Regions from separate parts of the Homo sapiens genome. Here region 2 is linked to region 1. Evidence: fine-mapped expression QTL. A gene starts in region 1. The other region holds a variant in brackets. All regions are shown on one strand. Distances are from middle to middle. Region 1 holds the start of POLQ (DNA polymerase theta). Region 2 overlaps STXBP5L (syntaxin binding protein 5L).

What was found. PIP is the estimated chance that this variant, and not a neighbour inherited with it, causes the effect.
Region 2: its variant is fine-mapped to the expression of POLQ in lymphoblastoid cells (GTEx, PIP above 0.99).

Annotation. Positions count from the first base shown.
Region 1 is chr3:121,538,746-121,554,909 of GRCh38, forward strand. It overlaps POLQ (DNA polymerase theta), which reads right to left and starts at 7,243. Exons shown (of 30, transcript NM_199420.4): 1 at 6,970-7,243; 2 at 5,982-6,161; 3 at 2,604-2,734; 4 at 688-844. The coding sequence starts at 7,132. RefSeq lists enhancers at 6,976-7,205, 7,097-7,391, 9,960-10,119.
Region 2 is chr3:121,394,867-121,411,030 of GRCh38, forward strand. STXBP5L (syntaxin binding protein 5L) reads left to right here. Exons shown (of 27, transcript NM_001308330.2): 23 at 12,377-12,737. Among named protein-coding and RNA genes, the nearest start is that of POLQ, 140 kb to the right of the region's middle. The variant C/T (reference allele first, on the strand shown) is at 9,350.

The sequences.
Region 1 (16,164 bases):
TCTCTCTCCAAGCTTTATGGAGCATAGCCTATGTCTGATTCCCACCCTCCACCCCTACCCTACCATAACTTTACCATGGTATTTTTAAGTTCACCAGCTTCTCAATAATTAGCTGATATTCTTGCTACTTCTGCTGCTGCAATCCTTCTATTCCTGTTGCTACCTCTACATAATGGCCTTTCCATAATGGCAAAAAAATGCATTAAGATAGAAAATCTTCCCACAATCCCAAGCTCAAATAGAGTGTCAGTTTCTTTAGCTTCCTACCATTTCCATGCTAAATGACAGACTCTGGGTCCAAGCCCAAAATAGACATCATAGCAGCAGAATATAATAACAAAAACCCATATACACTAACCACAAAATGGCAGATCTGGCCCAGCAGGCCTCCTTCTATTCCTGGTAGAGTTTAGATAGGAAAGAAGCAAGGAGAAATTATTGAGGGCTCAAGGATATAATCTACGTTTTGTAAAGTACAAAAATGCAACGTAACGGAGTCAATAACAGCAGCAGGACACAAAACTTATAAACACAGCGTTCCTAACATTACAGATGCCAATCCTTGCCTCCAGAAGTAGATAATAGACAATAGGAAAACAAATGGGACCTAGAGAAATCACAACAGCTCCACTTCATTCCATCAAAAATAGCAATAGAAAGTATTTACTTATTTTCTAACTTTCTTACCTAACAGATCCATCTTATTTTCCTCTATGAGGCGATTGATCAGACCATTGGCTCTCTCAATTGTGCAGACTGCAATATCCAATGAAGAGAAATGCCTTGATGGAGAGGTGCTGCCCATATAACCGTCTACTTTTATTCCTACTTCCTGAAACAGACTCTGAATTGAGTAAAAAGGAACAATACAGGTGAAAAAACTTGAAATTCAAGAGTTATAAACTGGTTCTATCCCAGAACATAGACATAAGTATCTAAAGACATCTACCAGATTACTGTCATCAGTTGTTTCTGGCCAGGACACACTGGTTCTTTTTAGATCATATACTAAAAATATAAAGTTTAGAACTGACAAAACTGTTAAGAGTCAAATAAAATTATGCCATTTTAATGACAGCATAATAATCTAAAAACTTCTAAGAGCTATTTAGAGGAATTAAAATTGGAGAAAAACTACCTTAAGCACTAACATTTTTAATCTAATAAATAGCAAGAAACTAGCTATAACACTTAAAGAAACAAATTTATACTTCATGAGGAAAATAGTCTCATTATCCTACTAATGACCAATTTTTTAATGTAATTGGAAGAAAAGTTTTTAAAAGTCAAATTCAGTGGGACTTTAATAATAATTTTTTTTTTTTTAGTTTAACTTTTAACTAACATACCTTTCAATAAAAAGGATCCTTTCATCATTTCGTTACTTTGGGTCTAAGTTGAGTGATGTTACCATGTATGACCAGCTTTGTTGGCTACTGTGCCTCTGAAATAACTATTAAAAAGATTTATAGAACCATAGAAATTTAGAGCTATTCATTCAATAAAATTTTCCTGAGTGTTTACTAAGTTAACCCACAGGGCTAAGGGTTAACATCCTAATTTTACAAATAAAAAAACTGAGGCCCAGCCAGTTATATGCCCGGCCTAAAGACATAGTTAGTGGCAAAACTGGGACTAGAACCCACATTTCTTTAACAATCAGTATAACAATCTTTCCATTTCAAAAGCACATATTTTTCACTGCAGAAATCACAACAGTAAATTTATTCCATTTAATAAAATATTGTATTTGTGAAAATGCCCTAAAAACTGTGAGCATCATATTGATGTAAACTACTATTAGTCATTTTTGCAGAACAGAGGAACAGATCACATACCTGGAGCTTTACCTAAGCACCAATGGATCTTGACCTTCATCCCCTAAATATTCCTAAATAGTCCTCAATTAGGGCAGGATACACTTCCTTAAACACTCTTTCCTTTCTATGCTTCAGTCTAGTCCTACTGTTCAGTTAAATGCTGATTCTTAATGTGCGTGTTTATATGCTAGTTTAAATATTCTGTTTATTTCCTAAGAAAAGGTTTACAAATTTTTACACAATTTTCACCAATTATTCTTTTGATTTGATGGCCCCTTCTCCTTAATGCAATAATAATTTTCTTTTAATTTCCTTCTGTAAATTTTTTTAATTTTTTTTTTTTTGAGACAGAGTCTTACTCTGTTGCCCAGGCTGGAGTGCAATAGCGTGATCTCGGCTCACTGCAACCTCCACCTCCCAGGTTCAAGCCTCAGTCTCCCGAGTAGCTGGAATTACAGGTGTGCGCCACAACACCCAGCTAATTTTTGTATTTTTAGTAGAGATGGGGTTTCCCCATGTTGGCCAGGCTGGTCTCGATCTCCTGACCTCAGATGATCCGCCCACCTTGGCCTCCCAAAGTGCTGGGATTACAGGCGTGAGCTACCACACCCAGCCCCTTGCTGTAAATTTTTAATGCTTTTGGCAGTAGCCTCTTAAAGCTACATAGGGCACAATGAAGAAACTTTGTTTTCCACTTGCTTTTATAATTCTATTTCAAATGAATGAAACCAAGACTGCCAATAATGAGCCTTTCACTATTTCAAACTTAGTAAAAAACATTACCTGGAGGTAGTATTTCTTCTCTTTAGCCACAGAAACAAAGGGAAGAATAAACAAAGCTTTCTTCCGCATTTCCAAAACCCGCTTCAAAATAAGTAATTCTGCCACAAGAGTCTTCCCAGCACTTGTAGGAGCTAAAACATGATTATTCCACAAGATTATAAGAAAAAAGTAATATTCGGTACAATTCATTAATAAATGTTTTAAGCCATGTGTAGTACTACAGAGCCTAAGGCTAACCAATCACTAAGGGCCCAATAGCACTTAAAATCTTTATACCCTGAAATGCCCTTTACTTTAAACCACCTGTCTTAATAGTCTCAACTAAAAACAGAGTAAATAAATCTTTATATCAGCAATATGATGAATACTACTGAGTACCTAGTTTATACCTAAAGATCCTTTCCTTTAAGTACCAAATGGGTAAAAGGCCTGCTTTGAGGAAGTAGATGAACAATTTTATTATGATAGGAGCTATGATCGAAGTTGAAGAAAAGGGCTGGGCATGGTGGCTCATGCCTGTAATCCCAGCATTTTAGGAGGCCAAGGCCGGGGGATCACTTGAGGTCAGGAGTTTGAAACCATCCTGGACAACATGGTAAAACCCCATCTCTATTACTATAAAAATAACAAAAAAAAAAATAGCTGGGCGTGGTGGCGGGCACCTGTAATCCCAGTTACTCAGGAGGCTGAGGCACAAGAATTGCTTGATCCTGGGAGGCAGAGGTTGCAGTGAGCCGAGATCACCCCACTGCACTCCAGCCTGGGCGACAGTGAGAGACTCCGTCTCAAAAAGGAAAAAAAAAAAAAAGAAGTGGAAGGAAAAAAGTTGCAAGGAATCTTATGGAAATGAAACAGAATTTATGAGAAGGTAAGGAAGAAAGCAAGAGGAGGCCACGATGGGCAAGGTGTTGTATGTCTGTAATCCCAGCATCTTGGGAGGCTGAGGCCTGAGAATCACATGAACCCAGGAAGAGGAGGCTGCAGTGAGTTGCAGTCACGCCATTGCACTCTAGCATGGGTGATACAGTGAGACTCTGTTCCAAAAAAAGAAAAAAGAAAGGAAGAGGAAAGGAATGCCATGCCTAAGAAACAGCATATGGTACAAAGGCCTAGAAGAAAGCCTGGCATGTTCAGATGACACAGAAGGTAATTTAGTAAGCATGGAGTATAAAGTACCCCAGGGGTATAAAAGAAGAGATATGAAAGTGCCACAAGAAAGGTTTATAATCCCACCATTTAAGGAGTTTAAACCTTGTCCTGAAAGCAATGCAGTGTGACTGATGAGTTTTATGAAAAGGAGTGACAAGATCATATTTGTACTTTATAAAGATCACTTTGGACTGGGCACAGTGAATCATGCCTGTAATCTCAAAACTTTGGGAGAATCACTTGAGCCCAGGAGTTCAAGACCAGCCTGGACAACACAGTGCCACCCCCATCTCTACAAAAAATTTAAACAAAAATTTTTTTTAAAAAGACCACTTTGGGGCCGGGCGTGGTGGCGGGCGCCTGTATGTAATTCCAGCTACTCCGGAGGCTGAGGCAGGAGAATCACTTGAACCCGGGAGGCAGAGGTTGCAGTGAGCTGAGATTGTGCCATTGTACTCCAGCCTGGGCAACAAGAGCAAAACTCCATCAAAAAAAAAAGACCACTTTGGCTGCAGGAGCAGGGCAAGATCAGAGGAAAAGAATGAACTAGTTTCAAAGCTATTGCATAATCTAGAAGAAAGATGATAATGAGCTGTACCAGGTAATGGACCTAAAAACAGAAAGGAGTCAGAAGCAAGAGATATATGAGGTAACAGACACCAGGACTTGGTGATTAATTGTATAAGCTGGTGACCAGAGTTCTGAATGATACCCAAGTTTCAGTTTCAAGCAATTGAAATGGTCAAGCAATTATGCCACTGCCACTAACTATGACTTCTTAGCATTTACAAGTATTTTATTTTTTGTAATGCCTTTTCACAATACAAGTACTTTCTATGTGCCAAAAACTGTTCTGAGCTTTTATATATGAAATAATTTAATCAACTCTAAGTACTACCGAGGCACACATACTCACAAACACATATACACTCTCTCACTCTTCCTAAGTAATCTGTGAGGCTGCATAGCCAGTAAGTGATAGTTTTCAAATCCAACCAGTCTAATTCCACTGCCTGAACTTATATCTGCTGATAATTATTTAATTCGTCCTTACAGCCATAATGAAAAATCTGTGTGACTCATAATTTCGGAGAAAACTGACACAAAGGAATTGCATCTTACCAAATGATTAGATTTAAAGTCAGTGTAGTAAGCATGCGTTAAAAATTGTGTATGCCATAGTTGCCCATGAAAACCCATATAGGGCCGGGCATGGTGGCTCATGCCTGTAATCCCAGGACTTTGGGAGGCTGAGGTGCGTGGATCACCTGAGGTCAGGAGTTCGAGACCAGCCTGACCAAGATGTGAAACCCCGTCTCTACTAAAAATACAAAAATTAGCTAGGCATGGCAGCGGGCATCTGTAATCCTAGGTACTCAGGAGGCTGAGGCAGGTGAATCACTTGAACCCGGGAGGCAGAGGGTGCCGTGAGCCGAGACAACTCCATTGCACTCCAGTCTGGGCGACAGAGCAAGACTCCATCTCAAAAAAAAAAAAGAAAACCCATAAAAATTTTATATAAAGTATATTACTTGTTGTTTGTATATACAACCCTGTACAAACAGGTCAATCTATAGCTGGGCACGGTGACTCACACCTATAATCCCAGCACTTTGGGAGGCTAAGGTAGGCAGATCACTTGTCAGAAGCTCAAGACCAGTCTGGCCAACACAGTGAAATCCCATCTCTACTAAAAATACAAAAAAGTAGCTGGGCCTGGTGGCGCACACCTGTAATTCCAGCTACTTGGGAGGCTGAGGCAGGAGAATCACTTGAACCTGGGAGGTGGAAGTTGCAGTAAGCCCACATAGCGCCACTGCACTCCAGCCTGGAGACAAACTCTATCTCAAGAAAAAAAAAAGGTAAATTAACAAACATGTAATGATAATGCTCATACCCTGAAAAGCAACCAGGATCAAACAGGGGAAGGGCAGATTTACATCTCCCATTGCACACTCACTGGGATATATGTTTGTTGAGAATAATGGCAGGCAGAATTGCCCACTCTTTAAATTGTCATTTTTCTTGCTTCCCTCCACCCCAGTCAAACAATAAAACTTTTGTAATTTAAATATAAATAAAACTCCACTTTTCACACATATTGTACGATTTTCTCTAGTTATAAAGCACTGCCTCATTCACCTTTTAAACGAACCACAACTACCTCAATAGAGTATTCTTTACATTCATATCTTAAAAATAGTAATTAGTTTACATAAATTTGGATACCTGAATAAACTAAATTCTTTCCTTCCAGGACTTGTCCAAGCAAAAGGCACTCTGCCTGCCATTCAAACATCTTTTTTACACCAAAACTGTGGTATTTTTCCAGAACTGCTTTAGGAAGTCCCCAGTTTGCCAATAGTAGCTTGTCTCTTTCGTAGTCAGGAACTGTAGGCTTGCATTCTCCTTTTAGGAAAAAGAAAAAATTAAAATTTAATTTACTTCTAATATATGAGTTTTACAGTTAGCCCTTCACCGTGTGTTGGAATTCCTATGTGTTGAAATGAAGCTCTTTAAAGCACATCCTGACTTCAAGAATCTTATGAGAAATTGACCATGTATAGAAAAGTAATAAATTGTTATTTACTGCATATAATAAAAATTCCTTAAAAGCCTCAAACGAACAAAAAAGCGTGCAATACACAGTAGATAAAGAGTGTTGGAATTACGGGTGTAGTTGGGGGAGGAGGGCAATATGCAAGCATTACAAAGCTAAGTTAGGTGAGTTTCTATTTATAGTAAGTTTTAGTTCCATGACGACTGCACAACTAACGATTTTAAAAAACTGGGTCGACATCCACGGGACACCCAACCAATCTCATTACGAATCCCTTCCAGCCTTCCCCTGGACGCCGAACAGCCTGTGCCGTACTCCAGGCCCAACAATCCTGTCTTAAGGGTCTGTAAGGAGTACTGGGTACTACCAGGAACGAGCCGCCCAACAGATGATGGGATGAAGCTAACTAGGAAGTTGTTTCTCTAAAGGTCGAAAGATCCAGAAGCCACGTGAACATTAATACCAGGCGATCACTGAAAACACGCGTATGTCTGAACAGAAAGTGACCTGCCACACCAGGCCCCAGTCACAGAGAAGGGGAGTAGAAGCCCAATGGGGTATGCAACGAAGCAAGTCCCGTGGGGTGAGGACACCTCCCGACCCATGGCCCGGCGGAGCTGCCCCCGTTGCCCGCGGCCTCCCGGGTTCCTGGAGCACCTGCAGCTGCGGCCTTCAGGCAGCGACCAAGGCCGGGCGGCGGGCTCAGCACGGACCCGGAGAGGAACTGGGGGCTGGCACTGCTGTCACCGCCGCTTCCCGAGAACGAATCTGAGCCTGATTCTGAACGCCGCCGTTTCCCACTCCGACGCAGAAGATTCATGGCAAACTCTTCTCGGCCGATCAGGGCAAGCCACAGTCCCAGCGTCCTCCCTCTCGGGAGAACCCTGGCCTGGCAACAGCTGCGGACATCTTCCCGCCAGTCTTCAAACTCAAACCTCCCGGCCCGCCCCGGAACCATAGAGTTCTCCGTGGCTTAAGTAACCCGAAAGCCATAGACTCGTGGGGAAGGAGCGGCTCTCGCTGGCGTCTAAGACTTCCGGCCTCCAACCTCCTGGTTGGTTAATATGAGAGATAGATTAAAGAGGAAGAATACAGAATCTACAGTTATAACCATACTGACCTAAAAGCCTTCCTTCTCCTTTTGTCCATTTCTGGTTTGAATAGGAAGGCCATGCTAACTTCATAAAATGGGCTGCCCATAATAGGTAGATCAGGGAAGTAGCTCTTCTTAACGTATTGGTATTCTGTAAAAAATTATTTCAGATTGAGAAGCATTATGCAAGATAGCCTAGGGTTTCTAATAGAGCATAATTTCCTCCTTTCTCCTAGTATATGATGGTAGGGCAGGGCTATTTCTGAACACAATTTCCATTTTAGCCAGCATGCATTGTGAGGAATATGTAATGAGGAATTGGGGATTGCTGGCTGACAGACCCCTGAGACACTATATGAACGCCGCGAGGAAGGGGCTCTGAATATACCCCAGGGATCGTTATGAGCCAAGAGCTTAGTAATGCATCTGTGTTGTCCCTTTTGTAAAGGTAGAAGCGAACGAGTTCTGAACGTAAAACGGTGACCATTCATTACCTAGTTGCATAATTCATTTCACCAAGCAAAACTAGTAGGCCCTAAGCCTGACCTGAAGAGGCTGTGCAGTTCTAGAGCACTAAAAATCTCAAAAGGTCCAGTCCAATTAAAAAAAAAAAAAACACTCGAATACAATCTGGAAAATAGCATTCGAACCATCAATTCCTTCCGTGAAAACATTTTTTTGATTTAAATGACAATATTCTAAAGTTCCACGAGATGGCGACATTACTCCGTGAATGAAACATTTTTCTCTTGGCCTTTTACGCAATCAACAACTATTTACTGAGTATCTACTGTAAGCTAGCCACTGGGTAAATGGCAGTGAAATGGCATAAAATGGTTCCTGCTCTCAAAGAGAAAGAGTCTAGAGAATAAGGCAGACATTAAACAAGTCAGTTAATGAAGTGTGCCATATGCTTGGGCAGAAATGAAGAGTACTATTAAAGAAATAAAAGAGATCTCGCCGGCCGTGGTGGCTCACGCCTGTAATCCCAGCACTTTGGGAGGCCGAGATGAGTGCATCACCTGAGGTCAGGAGCTCTAGACCAGCCTGGCCAACATGGTGAAACCCCGTCTCTACAAAAATACAAAAAATTAGCCGGGTATGATGGCGGGTGCCTGTAATCCCAGCTACTCTGGAGGCTGAGGCGGGAGAATTGCTTGAACCTGGGAGGCGGTGGTTGTAGTGAGCCGAGATCGCACCACTGCACTCCAACCTGTGCGACAAAGAAAGACTCCGTCTCAAAAAAAGAAAAAAAAAAAAAAGAGAGAGAGACCCCTAGATTGCAGCCAAGAAAGAACTTTCTCAGATGCAGTGTAACTTAAGGGTTAACAGTGCAACTCTGGAGTCAGTCAGTCTAGGTTTGAAACTTAGTAGCTGTGAGATCTTGGGCAACTTGCTTAACCCATTTTTTGTTTGTTTGTTTGTTTTGAGACGGAGTGTCCCACTCTGTCGCCCAGGCTGGAGTGCAGTGGCTTGATCTCTGCTGACTGCAACCTCTGCCTCCCAGGTTCAAGCGTTTCTCCTGCCTCAGCCTCCCAAGTAGCTGGGATTACAGGCCTGCACCACCACACCTGGCTAATTTTTGTATTTTTAGTACAGACAGGGTTTCACCATGTTGGTCAAGCTGGTCTCGAACTCCTGACCTCAAATGACCCGTCCACCTCCGCCTCCCAAAGTGCTGGGATTACAGCGTAACCCTTTTGTGCCTCCATGTCCTCATCTGTATGATAGAGATAATAATTGTAACAACCTATTTGGTTATTTTGAGGACTGAGTAAGTCAATATGTGTAAAGTACTTAGAATAGTGCCGGCACATAATAAATACTATTCAGAGAAAATATTTAGATGTTCTAATATAGCCCCCAATTTAAATTCAGCATTTTGCTGGGAAAAGGCTAAACTAGAAAAATCTCTTACAAAGCTATTCTGTTTTTATTATTAGGTGAACTATGATCAAATCAGAAAAATAATTAGAAAGGAATTGAAAGTTTTATGTCATCCTACCAAAAGCCTAGAGAATATTTTAAAATATATAATTTATTTTAAATGTTCAACATTTCTAATTTTTTCAGAAAAACTCTGAAAATGGAGAATAGAAGGCTATTTCTCAAAAATATTAAAGATGTTTATGCTAACAGTTATCATAATAACTAATATTAAAATACCAGAAGCATTTTCCATCTGTATTGTGTCTAAACTCGTGTTCCTTGGAATTTTGTCTGTGATAATTCCTCAAGGAGGCAGGGTGCAGTGGCTCACACCTGTAATCCCAGCACTTTGGGAGGCCAAGGCAGGCCGAATCATTTGAGGTTAGGAGTTCGAGACCAGCCTGGCCAACATGGTGAAACCCCATCTCTACTAAAAATACAAAAATTAGCCAGGCCTAGTGGTGCACCTGTGGTCCCAGCTACTTGGAAGGCTAAGGCAGGAGAATGGCTTGAATCTAGGAGGTAGAGGTTGCAGTGAGCCAGGATCACACTGAGGGAAGAGAGAGACCCTCTCATATTGGGAAGAGAGAGACCCTCTCATATTGTTTTATATTGTATTATACTCAGTACTTGTTTTTTTTAAAAAAAAAAAAAAAAACAAGGAAGTAAAACCAAAGACCAGCAGCCCGGCGCCACGCCCGAAACCAGGCCTGGGCCTGCCAGGCCTCAACCCAGTAGTTAAAAATCAACTCATAACTTAGAAACTGATGTTATTCATAGATTCCACACATTGTATAGAAGAACATCGTGAAACTCCTTGCCCTGTTCTGTTTCTTTCTGAATACCAGTGCATGAAACCCCTGTTACGTATCCCCTAGACTGCTCAGTCAACCACGATCCTTTCGTACGAAAACTTTAGTGTCGTGAGCCCTTAAAAAGGACAGAAACTGTGCATTTGGGGAGCTTGGATTTTGAGATAGTAGCTCACTGATACTCCCAGCTGAATAAAGCCCTTCCTTCTACAACTCGGTGTCTGAGAAGTTTTGTCTGCAGCTCATCCTGCTACAACACCATTGCACTCCAGCCTGGGTGATAGAGCAAGACTCAGTCTCAAAAAAAAAAAAAAATTCTTCAAGGTCTGAGCAAACCCCTCCAAATAAAATTTACACATACTTCTGCCAGTTACCTGGGAGACATACCAATTGTGGATCACTTTAAATTTAATCTTTGGCTTTTTAAAAAATATGTAAGTAGTAGAATTATGCTAGATACCCAGAGTCAGGTTTGTGCAGGCTTGCATCCTTATTGTCTCAATCTGCAGGACAGATATTTCTCTGCTTCATTCACTGAGAGTGCTGCCTTTCTTGGGTTTTGGCTTTCTGCAGAAATTTTTTTTTTTTTTTTTTTGAGACAGAGTCTCACTCTGTTGCCCAGGCTGGAGTGCAGCGGTGCGATCTCAGCTCACTGCAACCTCCGCCTCCCAGGTTCAAGCGATTCTTGTGCCTCAGCCTCCCGAGTAGCTGGGACCACAGGTGGGCATCACCACGCCCAGCTCACTTTTGTATTTTTTGGTAGAGATGGGGTTTCACCATGTTGGCCAGGCTAGTCTTGAACTCCTGACCTCAAGTGATCCACCCCTCTTGGCCTCCCAAAGTGCTGTGATTACAGGTGTGAGCCACCACACCTGGCCTATGCAAAGAATTTTAGATCTTACTTCTCACCCTGCTGGGAACAACAGAGCCCATAATCCATGCTCTAGACTCCAGGGGGAACAGCAGGCATCACTATGGAAAACTTTGGGTCTAGTGCTTTTCTTAATCCTCTAGAATATGTTTGACATTTCTGTCCTACAAAGGATTCCCTGATTTTAATCAACTTAGTTATGAATTTTAAAAGTTTTTAAAATATAATATTTAGAATTTTAAGGAAGATGTGCCATACTCGAAGTGGTTTTTTTTTTCAGTTTAATATTGCTAAAAACAGAAGAAAAAAAGCCCCCAAATAACAATAATTGATGTACATTCAAAAACATCATCTGATTTTTTTTAACTTTACATAAATTATCAAGAGTGATTTCCCATGGAAATTTCAGAAGTTATATGGAAAAATAAAATTTTACCCAAATTAGGCCAGGCACAGTGGCTGACACCTATAAACCTAGCACTTTGGGAGGCCAAGGCGGGAAGATCACTTGAGCCCAGGAGTTTGAGCCTAGCCTGCACAACATAGTGAAACCCTATTTCTACAAAAAATTTAAAAATCAGCCAGGAGTGGTGGCCCATGCCTGTAGCCCCAGCTACTAGGGAGGTTGAGGAGAGAGGATTGCTTGAACCCAGGAGATTGAGGCTGCAGTGAGTTGTGATGGCACCACTGCAATCCCCCGAGTGACCCGGTTTCAAAAATAAAAATAAAAACAAAAACAAAAATTACTCAAACTACATTTGTGAATTGACTAAAACAGAATTATCTACCCAGACTGAAAACTCTGTTTCTCATGTGATGTGAGTGGAAGTGATTTACAAAAAGGCAAAGAAAGAAAGGAGCTGGAAAATAAACAACGAACGTGGAATAAGGGTAGTACTGATTAGGTCTGAGGTACTCAGAACAAAGGAGATGCTAATTAAGGAGATTTTGTGTTTGAAATCCAGTGACTCTCAGCTAAAACAAGTCCAGTGGTACACATTAGAATCCCTAGGGAGCTTTTAAAATATTATAATACCCCTGGAGATTCTGAGTTAATTGATCTGGGATGGAGTGCAGGCACTGACATGTCTTAAAAGCTCCCCAGGTATTCTGACATGCTGGAATTGAAAACTACCAGTGCGGCCGGGGGCGATGGCTCACACCTGTAATCCCAGCACTTTGGGAGGCCGAGGCGGGCGGATCACGTGAGGTTGTCGAGAGTTCGAGACCAGCCTGACCAACATGGAGAAACCCTGTCTCTACTAAAAAAAAAGAAAAGAAGAAAAGAAAGGCCGGGCATGGTGTCTCATGCCTGTAACCCCAGCACTTTGGGAGGCCGAGGCGGGTGGATCACGAGGTCAGGAGATCAAGACCATCCTGGCTAACACAGTGAAACCCTGTCTCTACTAAAAATACAAAAAAAATTAGCCAGGCCTGGTGGCGCGCACCTGTAATACCAGCTACTTGGGAGGCTGAGGCAGGAGAATCGCTTGAACCCGGAAGTCAGAGGTTGCAGTGAGCTGGGTTCGCGCCACTACACTCCACCCTGGGTGACAGAGCGAGACTCCATCTCAAAAAAAAAGAAAAGAAAAGAAAACCACCAGTGCACACAAGGGATGAGGCTGACTTGAATTCAGGTGGCTTCAGTGAGAAAGTTTTAATAAGAGGCTTAAATTAACAAGGAACTCTGACAAAGACCTATTTTTCCACAATGCCTCAAAGAACTAGTTGAAATAGCTTACTTGTAGATGCAGATGAAAGCACAACTGAAATAACTTCAAAAGTCTAAGTTAAAACATCAGAAAGCCAACTTGAAGGTAGTAAAACTAAAGAATGAATCCCAATAAAAAGACTAAATTACTTGAACATGTAAGAACACAAACCCATAACTTCCAGATTCATACATAGTCCTGTCTTAGTTTGGCTGCTATAGTAAAATTCCTTTGACTGCATAATTTATAAACAACTGAAATGTATTGTTGGCTGGGGGCAGTGGCTCATCCCTGTAACCCCAGCACTTCGGGAGGCCGAGGCGGGTGGATCACTTGAGGTCAGAAGTTTGAGACCAGCCTGGCCCACATGGTGAAACCCTATCTCTACAAAAAATACAAAATTAGCCAGGCGTAGTGGTGTGTGCCTGTAATCCCAGTTACTCTGGAGGCTGAGGCAGGAGAATCACTTGAACTCAGGAGGCAGAGGTTGCAGTGGGGAAAATCGCACCACTGCACTCCAGCGTGGGTGACACAGTGAGACTCCATCTTAAAAAAAAAAAAAAATATGTTTTCTGTCTTGTCTCTCTTGCTTGGCTGACCTTCCTTTGTCCCTGGACTAGAGAAAACTAGGATTTTCTTGTGACTTCTTGTTGTTGTTGTTGTTGTTTTGTTTTGTTTTGGTTTTGGTTTTGGTTTGTGTTCATTGGCATTTCCAGGTTGCTGGCCTCTCCAGTGTCCCGTTTAGAATATATAAAACAAAAAAACAAAACCCAAGCAATTCACAAAAGTTTAGTTTTTTGGTTCCCCAGGTCCTTGCCTGGTCTGCCTTCAGAATCTTCATATGTTTGTTTACATATAATGGTCAGGGCTTTTAGTTCCACTTCTCAGGAGGAACGGGGGAAAGCATATCTACTTCATCGTCCCAGAAGCAGAATTCCCACCTTTTAGTCTTTTAACCATCTTTTTACAAACAGACATTTACAGTGTATGATACTGCCCTTCCCAGATCCCTTTTACTGGTTGTTTGACCCGACCCCTGGCTGCCATGTTGGTTGATAACTCACAGCTGCCCCCTCCTTGGAGGAATATCTCAGGGACAAACAGAAGCTGTCTTTGTGTGGCCTATGCACCACCATCTACACTTTCGGCCAGGGCCTGACTGCTATCAATGCTGCAGATTCGTGCTACAGAGCTTCCTCCTGAAATGAGACTGAAGCTAGTCTGCAGCTGAGACCATGTTCTTGATACTTATGGTGCTGAATTTATCCATCTTTTCTCTTATGGTTAATGCTATTTATGCATTTGTTATCTACCATCCCTCCTCCAACTTCCCTGCTACCTTTTCCCCTTTGACCATCTCTGGTTCTCCTCTTTTACTCCTTCCATTTTTCTAAATGTGTTTCTGTGATATCAAGGTGGACAAAGCTAATCTCAACTCACTTCAGCTCTCTAAGCTTCGATTATCTCATCAGCAAAGTGGGAGTAATGTACCAACCTCGCACACTCCATAAGATCATGCACTTGCAGGCACTTGCACAGGGTTTGCAACACAATGAGAGAGAATAGACAGAAGCAATTTGTATCGTAATTCCATTGCCTCAGACTCTTTTATGTTACCTACTCTATTTTATACTTTAATTTGTAAAAGAAATATATTATTTTCTCTGTGTAAAATTCACAGCAAAGGTGGGCATCTTCTGCTTTCCTTTGGTACCTCAGCCCTTCCATCTTATTGTGCTCCTCCCCTGTTGCTCAGACCAGAACACATCTCACTCCTCCCAACTATCTTCTGCCATTCTCACTGTTCTCTGCCACACCCTGTGCTCCCTCTTGCCAGTAGCTTTCTGTCCCTGTCCTGGTCTTCTGTAGAAAAATGCTCAAGTTCTCCTGTCCACAGCATTCTTAGAGACCCAGTCTAAATCAGAGAAATTGGAGGGAGAGTTGAGTGGGACATGCAGAGAATAATGAAAGCTCCTCTTCTTGTCTCTATATTAAAAAAAAAAAAAATTAAGGCTGAGAGCAGTGACTTAGCACTTTGGGAGGCTGAGGCAGGTGGATCACTTGAGTTCAGGAGTTCAAGACCAGCCTGGCCAACATGGTGAAACTCCATCTCTACTAAAAATACAAAAATTAACTGGCCATGGTTGCTGCGCGCCTGTAGCCCCAGCTACTCAAGAGGCTGAGGCACAAGAATCGATTGAACCCAGGCGACAGAGGTTGCAGTGAACCCAGATGGCGACATTGCACTCCAGTTTGGGCGACAGAGCAAGACTCTGTCAAAAAAAAAAAAAAAAAACCGCCAAGAGTGGTGGCTCACGCCTGTAATCCTAGCACTTTGGGAGGCTGAGGTGGGTGGATCACAAGATCAGGAGTTCAAGAACAGCCTGTCAAGATGGTGAAACCCTGTCTCTACTAAAAATACAAAAAAAAAAAAAAATTGCCGGGTGTGGTGGTGGGTGCCTGTGATCCCAGCTACTCAGTAGGCAGAGGCAGGAGAATCACTTGAATCCAGGAGGTGGAGGTTGCAGTGAGCCACAGCACTCCAGCCTGGGCAACAGAGCGAGACTCCATCTCAAAAAAAAAAAAAGAAATGAGTTAGAAGATGAGGGGACAGTTGGAGCTAAGCGAATTAGCAATTAATTTCAAAAAGCAAAATTGTTCATATTGATATTTAAGAGAAAAAGTGGCTTGCAAAATTTAATAGGAAGCATGATACAAATATTTTGGAAAAATATAAACACATAGACACACTCAATAGAAATAAGTAGATTATACCAGGCACAGTGACTCATGCCTATAATCCCAGCACTTCAGGAGGCCAAGGCAGGCAGATACCTGTGGTCAGGAGTTTGAGATTAGCTTGGCTAACATGGTGAAACCCCATCTCTACCAAAAAATACAGAAATGAGCTGGGCGTGGTGGTGTATGCCTGTGATCTCAGCTACTCGGGAGGCTGAGACAAGAGAATCGCTTGAAGCCAGGGGGCAGAGGTTGCAGTGAGCCGAGATCACGCCACTGCACTCCAGCCAAGCCAAGATCGTGCCACTGCACTCCAGCCTGGCCAATAGAGAAAGACTCCATCTAAAAAACAAACAAACAAACAAAACAAGGCCGGATGCGGTGGCTCACGCCTGTAATCCCAGCACTTTGGGAGGCTGAGGTGGGTGGATCGCTAAGGGTCAGGAGTTCCAGACGAGCCTGATCAACGTGGCGAAACCCCATCTCTACTAAAAATACAAAAATTTGCTGGGCATGGTGGCACATGCCTGTAATTCCAGCTACTCGGGAGACTGAGGCAGAAGAATCTCTTGAACCCTGGGGTGGAGGTTGCAGTGAGCGGAGATCTTGCCACTTCACTCCAGCCTGGGCAAAAGAGTGAATGAAACTCCATGAAAGAAAGAAAGAAGAGAGAGAGAGAGAGAGACAGAAAGAAAG
Region 2 (16,164 bases), 140 kb before region 1:
GTGCTGGGATTACAGGCTGTTGAGGGTTTTAAAGGATTTTTAGATTTTTAAAATTCACTGAAGAAAAATGAAATTCCCTTCAGGTATTATTATCAAAAATAAAACTTCATTTACCCTTTTGTCATTTTTTAGTGGCATGAATTCAGACTTTTGCCAGAATAGGGCCCCTTCTTATATAGACAGATGAAAAAAAATCTATTATCATTCTTTGTGAAAATTCAATGAACTAGATATATAGTTCTTTTCTTAATAGAGCAGAAATAGTAAGTAACCCTTTAGATGTGTGACTGGCAAACATTGAAAGACTGTCAATTATACACATCCTTACTTGGGCATGTAGTTTTGAGGTATTTGCAATTTTACATCTTTTTTCAGGCTAAACCAAACGGAAAACAAAACAAAACTCTTCTATTTCACATAAGAAAAGTCTGAAACAGAAGAAATAATCTTGGACTGTGGAAATATAAATTCAAAATGATGAAAATTTTTTCAAACAAATAAGAAATTAAAAATTATGACTTTTAATTAAGGCTGAGTTTTCCAAAAGCATAGTCTTACAGATGAGTATGATACATATGTTAAATTGTTTCTGCTAAACCTTTAGTCATTAATAAAATATTCTTGCATTTTTTTCTGGTCAGGTTCCATTTTGTTTACAAATAGGTTTTTGAGGGTGGTATGCCTCAATTATAGGAGCAGATTTATTATGATAAATACTGAGATCAGAAAGCATGTGCAACTGCATCATAGAGTGATTACATCTAGGCATTATTGCCAGCCAAGTTTGATAAATATGCCCAATAAGTATAATTGTTCTCTGTGTCAGCCCTTGTTGAAGGAATACTCACAGCAATGGTGATACCGCTATCATAGCTACCATTAAATTACTCATTGTGAGTGGTTGTCCCGCTTTCCTCAGGTTTTCTTCCACCAGCTGTGACAGCTTCTTGATCTGTCCCCAGGTGGGTGGCTGTGTTCGACAGGTGTTGCTTGTGACAGTTGGGGTCCTCCTCAGCGTCAGTCTCGACATGGCTGCAACCGAGGGGTCCTCGGGATCCTCCCAGAATCTCTTCCTCGGCATCTGGCTTATGAAAAAGTTTCAGGTGTCTTGATGGTATCCAAATTGGCTGTTGATTTTGGCCTGGAGAAACACAAGCATAACGTCTACTCCAAGTTATTATTTTACCTATTTCCCAACTTTTTGTTATCAGATCTCCCCACCAAATCAGTTGTTCTGCTTCTCTTTGCAGCTGGTTTCTGTAGATGCTGTTCAGCTGCTGATAACATCTGGCCTTTGGGCAGGCTCAAAAAATTTAGTTAATAATGCCAGATTCAGTTGTATCTGCAGTGTTCCATATTCTCTATTTCCCCCTTTCTGCTTTTGCAACTGCTCTTTTAAGGAAAGATTCATTCTTTCCACTATGGCTTGTCCTTGAGAATTGTATGGGATACCAGCAATGTGTTTAATATTCCACATGGAGAAAAATGTAGCTAGAGCTTGGCTAGTATAGCCTGGGGCATTATCTGTTTTAGTAGAGGCTGGAATGCCCATCACCACAAAACACTGCAAAAGGTGATGTTTAACACAGGCAGAGACTCTTCTGATTGGCATGTAGCCCAAAGTGAAAAAAGGTGTCCACACATACATGTGCATATGCTAGTCTCCCAAATGAGAGAATATGTGTGACATCCGTTTGCCAAAGAGAGTTAGGTTCCAATCCTCGAGGATTAACTCCTCCTGTAAAAGATGAAGAATGTACCATTTGGTAAGTTGGGCATCACTGGATAATATTTTTAGCTTCTTTCCAGGTAATGCTGTATCTGCATTTGAGACCAGAGGCATTAACATGGGTTAAATTGTGAAAGTGTCTAGCATTAGATATTGCATTAGCAACTAGGTGATCAGCCATTTGATTCCCTTCAGTCAAAGGTCCTGGAAGAGGTATATGAGCCCTAATGTGAGTGATGTAAAAAGGGTGCATTCTACTTCTAACTGCTGTTTGCAATTGGGTAAATAAAGTCATCGGTTGTTCATCTGTATGAAATTGTAACTGAGCATTTTCAATTAACTGTGTGGAATGAACCACATATGAAGAATCAGAAATCACATTAATAGGCATAGCAAAAGCAGTCAATACCTCAATTACAGCTACAAGCTCCGCTTTTTGAGCTGAAGTATAGGGTGTCTGGAAAACTTTACTTTTCGATCCAGAATAAGAAGCTTTACCATTACTAGACCCATCTGTGAAACAATGAAAATACTTAGCAGGCTGCAGGTTGTTTACTGCAGGAATTGTAAATGCAAACCGTTCACATTCTTGCTCAGCTAAGGGGATAGTAAAGAAACGGTCTTTTAAATCTATGACTATTAAAGGCCAATTTTTAGGAATTATAGCAGGAGAAGGCAATCCTGGCTGTAATGCTCCCATAGGTTGTATAACTGAACTGATGACTGTTAAATCAGTTAACATTCTCCATTTACCTGATTTTTTCTTAATTACGAAAACTGCAGAATTCCAAGGCGAAAATGTTGGAGCTATGTGCCCATTTTCTAATTGTTCAGTAACTAATTCCTCTAACGCCTCCAGTTTCTCTTTACTTAGCGGCCATTGTTCTATCCAAATTGGCTTATCTGTTAATCATTTTAAAGGTATAGGTTCTGGACGCTTAACAATGGCCGCCATCAAGAATGATATCCTAATATTTGGTGGGAACATCGTCTTTCCACTTGAAGCGGTACTTTCAAAGCTTGCAAATTTTTTTCTAGTCCCATACCAGGGACATACCCCATTTCATGCATTATATGTTGACTTTAAGGGCTATATAATTGTTCTGGAATTAGAACTTGTGCTCCCCATTGCTGTAATAAATCTCTTCCCCATAAATTTATAGGTACAGAAATTATAATTGGTTGAATAGTCCCAGGTTGTCCATCGGGCCCTTCACAATGCAAAATATAACTACTTTGATATACATCAGGGGCTTTACCAACTCCAACTATGTTAAATTGAGCAGGTTGAATTGGCCACGCAGACAGCCAGTGCTGTAGAGAAATGATTGAAATGTCCACTCCTGTATCTACCAAACCTTTAAATTTCTTTCCCTGAATAGTTATTTCACAGGTAGGACGTTTATCAGTAATTTGATTTACCCAATAAGCAGCTTTGCCTTGTTTATTTGTGCTTCCAAATCCTCCTGTTCGTTTAATTTTACTTTTTCCGATTCCCACATACGGCACAATCAGGAGCTGTGCCATGTGCTCTCCTGGCTCTGCCTTCCAGGGAACAGAAGTAGATATAACAATTTGAATTTCCCCATTGTAATCTGAGTCAGTGACTCCTGTATGTATTTGTACCCGTTTTAAACTTAAACTAGACCTTTCTAAAAGTAATCCTATTGTCCCCGCTGGCAAGGATCCACAGACTCCTGTTGGGACCTTTTGTGGGGGTTCCCCAGGCAGAAGGCTCACAGCTTTTGTGCAGCATAAATCTACTGCGGCACTACCGGCTGTGGTGGGGGACAGATATTGTACAGGGGTGAGGGAATGGCCTGAGCTGGAAATGCCCCAGTTTAGAACAGCGCCCAGGATGGGCCCCTCATGGCTTTTCCCAAAATCGGGTTCCCATCTTTATCAAACCTAGAGTGACACTGCTTAGCCCAATGTTTTCCTTTTTTACATTTTAGACATATTTCAGGCTCAGCAGTTTTCTTTTTTCCCTTATCTGGCGGCCTGACTTGCTGATTTTTTCTACATTCTTTTTTAGTATGACCATGCTTCCCACAGTTAAAACAAGCCCCAGGAAATGAGTATTTCCTTTATCCACTCTCAGTCCTGCCATTGCCTGTGCCAACAAAGTAGCTTTATGCAGATTACCTCCAATACCATCACAGGCCTTGATATAATCAACTAAATGTGCTTTCCTGAATTTAAAAGGAAAAGGCTCAAATGTAGCTATAATATTTCCCTGCTGATCTGGGGGCTGTATTCTAACAGGGAACTGCCAAGCCTCTAAATCACCCTCTCTTCTAGCTTGCTGAATTCCTACCTGAATAGAACTAAGAGTGGTCGCTCGAGGCACTGCTCGAACAGACACTGGGGCAACTACTTTTCACCCAGTGTCCTCCGGAAAAGAAAGATCTGGAGGGTCAGGCCACTCTTTTTCTTCAAAATAATAATGAGGGGGTGCAGAAGGGTAGGGATGAACCTCTCCCTCCTTTTCCACTTTAGTTTTAGCTGGCAAATAAGCCTGGTCTGTAACCTCTTCTGTACTTCATTATACTCTCCTTCCTCCTCCTCATCAGTGTGAAAAAGTTCCAAGGTGGAATGAACCAGACCCCACACTTGTCCCATTGTTACCCTGATGCTTCTGAGCTCCCCTTCTTACTCACCATGGGGATTGCTTTAAGAGTACTCGGGTGTCCTCCAGCTAGTTCCATGTTCTCCAACCATTGCTCCAGTGACCCTTCAACCTGGATTCAAGCCCCCATGATGGATGCCACTTGCTGAGACCAGCTCGGTTGGGGAGACCCTAACTCAGTGGCACTAGAGGAATTAAAGACACACACACAGAAATATAGAGGTGTGAAGAAGGAAATCAGGGATCTCATAGCCTTCAGAGCTGAGAGCCCTGAACAGAGATTTACCCACGTATTTATCAACAGCAAGCCAGTCATTAGCATTGTTTCTATATTAAATTAACTAAAAGTATCCCTTATGGGAAATGAAGGGATGGGCTGAATTAAAGGAATAAGTTGGGCTAGTTAACAGCAGCAGGAGCATGTCCTTAAGGCACAGATTGCTCATGCTATTGTTTGTGGCTTAAGAATACCTTTAAGCAGTTTTCGGCCCTGGGAGGGCCAGGTGTTCCTTGCCCTCATTCTGGTAAACCCACAACCTTCCAGCGTGGGCGTTACGGCCATCATGAACATGTCACAGTGCTGCAGAGATTTTGTTTATGGCTAGTTTTGGGGCCAGTTTATGGCCAGATTTTGGGGGGCCTGTTTCCAACACCTATCACTTTTGTCTGCATCAAAATCACTTGAAGCATTCATTACAACACAGATTACTGGGCCCTGCCCCCAAAGTTTCTGATTCAGTAGGTCTGAGGGAGGGTCTGAGAATTTGCATTTTTAGCAAGTTCCCAGATGTGCTGAGTCTACAAAAATGAAACCTTACTTGTCCCTTTTGTCTACTGATGCACAGGGTTCTGCTCCCAGAAGGCCCTCTGCTCTTAAAGTCTTAAAATTCTTAATAATTTTATCTTTTGATGTATGCTTTGTAAGTAAAGACCAATGAGACAATGGAGCATGCACCAGGGGCTTGAAGCCTCTGCTCATGAGCAGTCTGCCTCCCACCTACCTCTCACCCAGGCGATGACTTAGTTTGTTGGGAGAGAGGCATTCCACTTTCACTTTCCACTGCTTTTGGGGCCTGGAGTATACATAGAGGTGGTCGGGGTCAGGCACATGCCTGGTGACATTTTGGGGCATGGAAGCAGCCATCCTTATCCTGAGTTGGTAGTACTTGGTGACTCTAGCATGTGATCGGCCAACCAGAGGCCATGTCTCAGATTGAGAGTCTTAACCAGTCCTGTTCCAGGTAGCTAGCACTTCCTAGCAAACAGTTTTAAAGACTTTCTGGGAGTCACCCCTCTTCTATGGTTTGAGGTGGCAGGATGGGGTCTTATTGCTGTAAAGAGGAGAAACTTAGCAGCCATCAGACTCAAATGTACTTAAGTAACTGAAGTCATGTGGTGAGACCCTCAGATGCCTGTGAAAGTCTGCAGTCATCTTGCAAGCATTCTCAAGCTGCAAGAGATATCCCCATACCTAAGAATGTGCTCCCTCAGGTCTGGTCTGGACTTGAATGACCCTGTCTTCCACCTTCCAACCTTCCTGAGACTGACTGGTTTGTCTCTTCTGGCCAACTCCCTGTGAATAATCATTTCATAGCTCTGGAGACTAGCTATTGTGTTTTTGCTACAGTTCAAAATAGAGGTTAAATGTTCTTATATAGAATATTATGAATAATAAAAAAAGTTAACTTTCCTTTACATAGAACATAAATAGCAAATATAAAAACACTAAAGAGATAGACCACAGAAGAAAGAAAAAAGCTTTATAATTTGCAACCTTCAATGGTACCTCTTCTCCCAATTTTTTTTTTATATGTTTTGCTCATTTATATGAAATCCAAGAGCAGGCAGTATTAACATATGACAGAATAAATGAGAGCAATGGTTGCCCCCTGAGAGGCTGCCTGGCTGCATGTGTTCAGTATGCGGGTTCACAGGCAGTATATGCATTGCTCTGTTCATTTTTCAAATAACAAATCAGTTTTTAGCTGTGTGTCTCCCTTCAAATCTCCACTGTTTCTTCTGAATTCTGTAGGGCACCACGATTGCTTTCCTAACCTCTAGGAGCATCCCCTACCTACTATTGCAACTAGCACTTGTGGAAGTCAGTGTGGCGATTCCTCAGGGATCTAGTACTAGAAATACCATTTGACCCAGCCATCCCATTACTGGGTATATACCCAAAGGACTATAAATCATGCTGCTATAAAGACACATGCACACGTATGTTTATTGCGGCACTATTCACAATAGCAAAGACTTGGAACCAACCCAAATGTCCAACAATGATAGTCTGGATTAAGAAAATGTGGCACATATACACCATGGAATACTATACAGCCATAAAAAATGATGAGTTCATGTCCTTTGTAGGGACATGGATGAAATTGGAAACCATCATTCTCAGTAAACTATCGCAAGAACAAAAAACCAAACACCGCATATTCTCACTCATAGGTGGGAATTGAACAATGAGATCACATGGACACAGGAAGGGGAATATCACACTCTGGGGACTGTGGTGGGGTCGGGGGAGGGGGGAGGGATAGCATTGGGAGATATACCTAATGCTAGATGACACGTTAGTGGGTGCAGCGCACCAGCATGGCACATGTATACATATGTAACTAACCTGCACAATGTGCACATGTACCCTAAAACTTAGAGTATAATAAAAAAAAAAAAAAAAGGAATTAGATTTACAGTGACAAAGAGAATGGTGGAGGACAATGAGCACATAAGAGATTTCAAATAAAACCTTGAAGACAAAAAGTGGTCAGAAAAGTGCTAGTTCTCCCAATTTTTGAACAAAAAGTCCCCCATAATTTGTAGGCCTAGTGCATTTTCATTTTGTGCTAGGCCCACAAATTGTGTAGCTGATCTTGAGTATATAAGATAAAATAGAAGTTTAAAAATCCATAATTAAGACTGAACTGGAGTAGTCAGGAAGTTAATAAATGTTTATTGAGCACATGACATGTCCAGATATTATAATAAGCACTGAAGATAAAGTAATGACGAAGTCATACGAAGTTTCTGTCCTCAAAGAGCTTACATTCTAGATAGGAATTGAGAAGTTCCGTGGAAGTTGAGAGACAATTAAAGTTTAAACAATGTATGTAAGGGAAAAGGAAAGCAAATATCTCAGGCTCCTTAAGACTCCAACTTTAATATAATTCTTCAGCCTCACTGGAACCTTAATCTATTGATCCTACCATTTTCATTGTCATTCACCCCCTTCATGTTCCCCCTTTCTAACTTTAATTTCACAGTCAAGCTCTATAATGCTTTTCTTTCATGCATTGTCAACTCTCTTGCCTCCTTTTTGCTTTGTTTGCTTTGTCATACTTATTCAGCTTAATCTCAAACCTGATTAAATTCAACTCTACCTATCCTATTTCTAGACCCATGTAGCTGAATATGGCTAGAGAAAAATACATAACCACACTAAAGTGTCTCATTTTACCATAAATCATCACTAACTTCAAGTGGGCTCTTATGCTGCTAGGTAATCATACTATATTTTCCTAGTCCTTGCCCCTGCACTCCTGGACAACAATTGCATATTTTCTTGTTTATCCTTTTGGTTGTGTGTGTATGTGTGTGTGTTTTGTTTTGTTTTGGTATAGATGAGGTCTCACTCTGTCACCCAGGCTGTAGTGCAATGGTGCAATCATAGCTCACTGTCGCCCTGAACTACTAGACTCAAACGATCCTCCCATCTCAGCCACCTGAGTAGCTGGGACTACAGGCATGCCATCATGCCTGGCTAACAATTACGTATTTTCTCTAGTCTCTTTAAATCTCCAAAACTTGCTTTTCTGTCTTCAATCTCAGCAATCACCATGTGTCCTCTTTTATTGAGAAAATTGAAACAATCAGATAAAAACTTCAACAGCTATCATCACATCTACCAACCTATCTGCTTGTATCTTCATGGCCTGCATATTCTCTCCTGTTACAGTTACTAAACTAAGCTTCTAACTAGGTGATTCATTTAACAGAATCATTCTATCTCCTGGCCTATCCTAAAGGGAATCAAGGTTGGAAGCAGGGAGAGCAGTGAAGAGGTTAATACAATAGTCTGGATGAAAAATGGATAGAGGCTTGTGTGAACTGTGTGGTAGTTATTCACTATATTCCACTTATACTCTAGACTCTGTTTGTACACTAGACTCCACTTATATACTAGACTTTACCTGCTTTCACCTACTTAAGAAAGTCAATCCAGCAATTTTTCCTTTGTTTCCTTTATAATAAATGTTTTTCTTTCTACTGAATCATTATATAAATATATTGTTATATCTTCCATTAAAAAAGAGAAACAATGGGTTCTAGGCTGTATTAGTCATGGGCAATATAGTAGTGAATAAAACAGACAAAAGTCTTTGCCTTCATAAAACTTACTTTCTATGGTAGAGATAGATAATATGTGTGATAAATAAGTAATTATATGGGATATTAGACACTAATAAGTACTAAGGAAAAAATTAGAGCAGAAAAGGAGATAGGAATTCTTGGTCATTTCTCAGGAAACATCTTATTTGACATATCAGCAACGTATTACACAGGCTACCATTCCTACCTTAAAACACTTCAAATTCTAGAGTGCTATTTTCACCTGATTTTCTTCCTACCTTCTAGCTATTCCTTCTCAATCTCTTTAGCTTGTTCCTCCTCCATTTCAGTGGACTTAAACCAGAATGCCCCAAGACTGATTCTTTGAAACTTTTCTCTTTATATTGAAGCACTAGATGAATTCAGCCAGCTTCATGCCTTTAAATGTCTGATGGATCATACATTTATATTTATAGTCTGGACCTCTCCACAAATTCCTAACATATATCCAGCTATTTGATATCCATTTGGATGTTTAGTAAGTATCCCAAACTTAACATGTTCAAACCTGAGCTCCTGGTATTCCTCTCATTCCTCTCACACTTTTCTACATCTATTAATGACAATTCCATTCTTCCAGTTTCTCAGGTCAAAAA[C/T]ACTGGAATCACCCTTGACCCCCATATTTCTTTCATACCCTAAATCCAATTTGTTAACAAATCCTGCTGGCACAACCTTTACAATACACTCAGATTCTGACATTGCTCACCATCTGTACTATTACCACACAGTTCAACCAAGCCTCTATCCATTTTTCACGCACACTAATACACTAACCTCTTCACTGCTCTCCCTGCTTCCAGCCTTGGTTCCCTTTAGGATACACCCAGGAGGTAGGGTGATTCTGTTACATGAAAGTTAGATTACATCACTTCCATTCTCAAAATCCTTCCATCTCACGCCAAGTAAAAGTCTAGGTCTTTACCATGTCCTGAAAGAACCAACATGATGTGGCTCTACTTTATCTCTCTGATCTTACCTCCTATGAATCTTCTTGGCATTCTAGAAAGTCAAGACCTATAAAGAATCTGAGATTTTATTCTACTTGTAAGCTAATAAAGTTAGGTTGCCAGTTTCGATGCTGATAGAAGACATGAAACTCCTGGCTCAGGGACAAAGGATAATTTATTATTCACAACAGTCATAGAATATCAGTATTTTGTGCTGGTTTCCTGAACCCTAATTCCCACAGGATGATGAAAAGAAGCCTTCCCTTCTTTATTAGTTTGCTCAGGCTGCCATAATGAAATACCACAGACTCAGTGGCTTAAACAGCAGAAATTTATTTTCTCACAGTTCTGGAGACTGAAACTCTAAGTTCAAGGTGCCAGCAGGGCAGATGTCTAGTGAGGTCTCTTCCTTTGGGTTGCAGATGGCTGCCTTCTTGCTGTGTGCTCACATGGCCTTTCCTTTGTGTACACATAGGGAGGGGGAGAGAGAGAGAGAGCATGTACTCTGGTATCTCTTTTTAAAAGGACACTAATTCTATCAGATTAGAGCCATACCCTTATGATCTCATTTAATCTTAATTATTTCCTTAAAGGCTCCCTCTTCAAATAGATCCATAGTGGGGGTTGGGGCTTTAACATATGATTTTTTTTACAAGAGGTTGGCAGGGGATGCAAACATTCAGTCTATAACACTATTTAAAATTTATCTACCTTTTTTCAAGAATTCCTATCTTCTTTTCTGCTTTTTTTCCTTAGTACTCATTACTATCTAATATCCCATATGATTACTTATTTATCAGACATATTATCTATCTCTACCCTAGAAAGTAAGTTTTATGAAGGCAGGGACTTTTGTCTGTTTTATTCACCACTATATTGACTATGACTAAAATAGAGCCTAGAGCACATAGAATGTACTTGATACTGTATGTATTGATTGAATGAAGGTTGTAGTCGGCAAGGCTGGTGATTTGGGAAAGCTGGAGTAAAGTACACTCCTAGCCAGTGAGTTCTTCTTTAAGAGGAAAGTCCTAATTAATTAAGATCTTATTATTGAAGCCCATAAGTTTAAGCATACTTTGTAAGTGTATTTCTGAAGTAGTAGCTGCTTATGATTTAGATTTACTTGAGTTTTTTCCAGTTGGAAAAGATTAAAGAAAGAATTCTAAACGATTAATAATACATTGTTTGGAAAACTTAAACCCTGTATAAACCTAATGAACAGAATATAATCAAAGCATTTATGACTAAAAATTAAGAAACAAAGCAGCTGTTTTGGCAAGGGCAGCTTATTGAGAAATTCATTTTGATGCTGAAGATTGTATGCAATGAGTATAAGTAAAATGGCTTTCAAAATGTGGATTTCTTGTCTTTTTAACCTACTGTCAGCCATCTCTAAATCAAGGATGAAAAGATATACTTAGAAAAGTCTTTCTATGGCAGGTAGTTAGGAAAATGTGGTTTTACTGAACAGCAGGATCAATCCTAGGTTAATTTTAATTAAATCATTCTTCAGAGCTGTTGGCATTTTTCCTTCATGGGAGATTGGGAGAGATGTTCTTTTATCCCTTAACCCTTAAACTGCAGCACCTAAACCTCTACTCCCCTAGCCTCTGCCGTTACCCTTATATACATTTATAGATTTCTTAGTTTTGAAGTGGATTTAAAAACACAACTAAGATATTAGATCATCCCAATATACTCTTTTCAATTTGATAAATTTTAAGGACTTTGTAAGTACTTTCTAAATGAATATACTTTTATCTGTCACCCTTCCCTTTTCAAGTCTCTGTCACATGTACACCCTTGAGACATTATCAGTCTAAGCTAACATACTTTCTCTGCATGATGTAAAAGGACAAAGGAAAGAAAGGGCTAATAGGGTACTGCTTAGGGAAGATTCTGGAAATATCCAAAGATCAATAGAGCCCAAACTACCTCCTAAGCTTTATAGTATATTGTCCTCCAAGACTGGTGAAAATCACCTATAGGCAATAATCTGGCATACATTGTCAACCTTGGAGAATCCAGGTGAGTAAAACCCCTTTCTGTGTAAAGATGCAAAAGCCTACCTAAGAGCTGAAGGTAATTGTTTTGTCTTTTTCATACAATTAAAATTGCCACCGTGAATTCCAGATATTGAAATTTCTTCTTGTTTGATTTTGAAGAAAAATCAAGCATTTTCTAGCAAATTAGTCTATGAAATAAGAAAATCAAATAAGATTGTGTGATTATTTTTCAGTTGAAGTTATTTCAATAAATAAAATATGTACATTTTTAAAATTTTCTTTTTTATAAAAGGACTTTAAGGGGGACTATATAGTATAATGAAAGAATCGTGGGGTAGGAATCAGAAAAATCTGAGTTCTAATCTAGGCTGTGACCTAACTTGCTGTGTGACCTGGCCCAACTTTCATAATCTTTCTGGGTCTGTTTTTTCTTCTTTTTTAATATAATGAGAGGGTTTGACCAGTTGACGTCTTAAGTTCCTTTTAGACCTAACATTCTATGATTCCAACTTATTATAACAGATGAGCTCACAAATCTACAAATTCATATACATTAGGGCAATATTATGACTCTATAGGTATAAATTATCACAATGTAAAACTTTAATTCCCTATAGATGCTTTAGAATGAATTTGACATGTCAGTGATGTCCAATTGTTTTTATAGGTACATTCCTCTCATTGAAAGGAGCTGTGCTAACATTCTCCTGTATGGACCGAATGGGTGGATTAATGCAACCGCCATATGAAGTTTGGAGGGATCCAAACAACATAGATGAAAATGAAAAATCTTGGAGAAGGAAAGTGGTAATGAACTCATCTTCTGCATCCCAAGAAATAGGAGATCATCAGTATACAATAATCTGCTCAGAAAAACAAGCCAAAGTCTTCTCACTGCCTTCTCAGACTTGCCTTTATGTTCATAACATCACGGAGACATCTTTTATACTGCAAGCAAATGTGGTGGTCATGTGTAGCAGTGCCTGCTTGGCATGCTTTTGTGCTAACGGACATATCATGATAATGAGGTACTTGCCTTCTTATAAATTATCTGGTAATCACAACAATACCAGCAAGGTACAATCCTAAAAAATATATGTGTTATGTGCAGATGTTATCAAGAAGCAAACTGAGATTATTGTTTCATTATGTTTCTGGATGTTTTATTGTTCAACGATTTGATGAGAGTTTGGGGGTTTTGTGTTTTGTTTTGGTTTTTCTTTTCTGCTAAAAATGCTTGGCATTGTGAGTGAAATATATTTTTAATTGTTTTGAAGGAATCTAAGAAAAGAATGATTTTTCAATCATTCAACAAATATTTATTGAGCATATCTCCCAGATGCTACACTAAGCACTGGAAATAAAAGATGAATAAGCTAAATAGAAAAGAAGTTAACTTTTACTTTTCCTGTGTTTGATACTTCACCCAAGAAATTTACATACAGAGTTTCATTTGATCCTTAGAACTTCTCTAGGACATAGGAAAATAAACTATTATTTGCATCCTCCATTTTACATGTGTTAATAAAGTTACACAGTTTGCCTGAGGTTGCAAGTCTAGGAAAAGTGAGGCCAGTCTGATAATTAAAAGTTATCAGATACTTTTAAAATAAAATATTGGTCAAGAGATTTCATTCTACTGTTAGTGAAATGAAATAAAATTTACGAGACACAAAAATAATTACCTAATGATTTTATGAATTCAGCAAATAGCTCATAAACGTATACTATATAGAAGTCACTGTCATTTTTTTAATATCTCACTTATTTCCAAAAATCATTGAGATGAGCACTGTGCTAGGCCTGTGAAGGATATAAAAATTAGTAGAACATGGTCCTAACCCTTAAGAAACTCACTGTCTAACTTGGGAGATAAGATAGATACACAGACATTATAACAAAAAGAAAATATAAATTCCAACAGAGGAAATATGGGATTGAATTTTCTAGCCACAAACTAAGTTCCCAGAGTTCAAAGTCACAGCATAGTTGAACATGTATTATAAATGAAGAGTTGTTGGGAGGACAGTAACATGGAGAGGTAGTTTGAAGCAAATTGTTGACGACCTTGAATGTCAGGCTGAGTTTGACATTTATCAATTAATAGGAAATGGGGTTTTAAGCAGGTAATTAACCTTCTCTAGCCATGTGTTAGGACATACACAGGGAGGGAGAAGTTGAGATAGGCTTTTGAACTGAAGTGGTGTCTGTATTGAAGGCAACGAGGAAACAGGTGTAAGGGAAACTTATTGAATGCAAAGCTGATTGGTTATGAACAGTAATGGAAGTTGTTAAATCTCGAGGTTAGAAGAGAGTTTAAAGGTTAAAAATTTTTTTGAACTTAGATAACGGTTATGTTATTAGCATATAGGAAAGTCAGAAGGATTTGAAAAAGCCAATAAAGAGAAATTTAATAATAAATTGAGAATAAATATTTGAAATTTTAGGTGTTATAAGCCATCCAGCAGAGGTTTAGCAATAAATTTAAGATTTGCACTCTTAGAAAAATATATGTGGAAGGTCCAGCTTTGGAAGTCATCTATGTAAATGCATCAGTAAAAGTTATGTCAGGAAATGAGATAATAAAAAAGATAGCATAAAAAGAAACAAGAAATTGACTGAGCTGAGGATAGAAACTTGGGGGTATTCTACGTTTATGTAGTGAAAGAAAGAATAAGATGCAGCAAAGGAGATTGAGAAGTTATTAGAAAGATAGGAAAGGACCAGAATTGTATAACTTCATTAAATAAAAAGAGAAGAATATTAAAACAAAAGAGGTTGTCAAGAGGTAGTAAAATATAGCAGAGAGGTCAAAGAATTTGGGTACAAGAAAAAAACAGTAGATCTCACAACTGGTGGGATATTAATGATCTTTGAGAAAGCAAATCTTAGCAGCATGGTGGAAACAAAAGCTAATTTTCAAGGAGACAAGAATAGAGGCAGTGGTATAGATCAGGGTTTAGCAAATTAATATCCAAAACAAAATCGACCTCCATTCCCCTATCTGATTTTGTACAGCCTGCAAGCATTAAGAATGGTTTTTACATATTTAATGGTTGAAAAAACTCAAAGAGAAGAATATTTCATGATATGTGAAAATTATACTAATTTTAAATGTCAATGCCCATAAATAAAGGTTTTGGAACACAGCCACACCCATGTTTCTGTATATTGACTATGGCTGCTTTTGCACTACAGGGCAGAGTTGAATAGTTGCAACAGAGACTATATAGCCTAGAGAGCCTAAAATATTTACTATCATAAATATTTATGGGCCCTTTTCCCCTGGTATTGATTATTCTTTCAGGAAATTTTGTGGTTAAAAGAGAGATGAGACAGGAAAGTCGCTTAAGAGTGAAACTAGGTTTTGAGAGTGTTTTTTTTTTTAGATAGGGAAAATATGAGCAGATTTGTAGGTCAAGGGAAAGTAGTAAAGGAGAAAATTTTGAATAAAAATAATCATTTTATGGTCTGTTCATTCTCTCATGTATTTCTGATTCTTTTCTATCTAGTTCCCCCTTTCTCAAACTGTTTTTAGAAATTTCTGATAAGGTCATTTCAATCTTGTTTGAAAATGATTTAACTCCCATACATGCCTCAGATTTGGGGGGGAAAAAAGGTCTATTTGTGTATGTGTGTAAATGTGTGTATCTCTCACACACATACATTGAGTCATTGATAAATGGTATCTGTCTTCCTCTGTCCTTTATAAAAGCTGCTTGACATGATAATGGTTACTTTGATATTGTGTCATAGTAGAAATTCTTCATGTGTTCCTGAGGATCCTCAAAAATAACTGAAAAGGAAATAATTTTGATATGATTTTAATAATACATATACATAAAGTGTAGCTAGGAAACAATGGTATGTACTCTGCTCTATGGTTTAAAGAAATGAATCCTACAAATTAGCATGCACCTGGCCTCATTCATTTTCCCATACTGAGTATATTCCCAGGATCTTTCCAGACCCTATCAGAAGGTAACTCTCCTGAGCCCAGTCTTCTCAAGTCCTGGGTTTCTGATAGATATCAGGTAGCTAGCCAGTGGTTACTTAGATCCTAAGTACCCAGACTCAGAAAAGCAAGTTTGAGAGTAGAGAGGAGAAATAGAAGAGGCTTATCTTTGTATGAATTCTCAAACTTGGCTGTAAGAGACACTTTTTGTGAGATCCACCTTTAGTTACCCGACACTATTTCTTTATTAAAGTGTCCTGCATAGAAGAAAGTCTTTTTTTCTTCTGTTATAAGAGCAATTGTTTCCTAGCAGTTAGCAACTGACTTGCTCTTTCTCTTTTCCTACCTGAAGTGACTACACCTCTTTAATTTTCTTTTCTTGGCTTACTTGTTATTATACAATATAGACAATGTAGCACATCAGAAAAGTCAGTTGGAACCTCTTCCTCAACTCCACCCTTTAATTTGACTGAATCTGTCATGGAAATCTGTTTAACTGG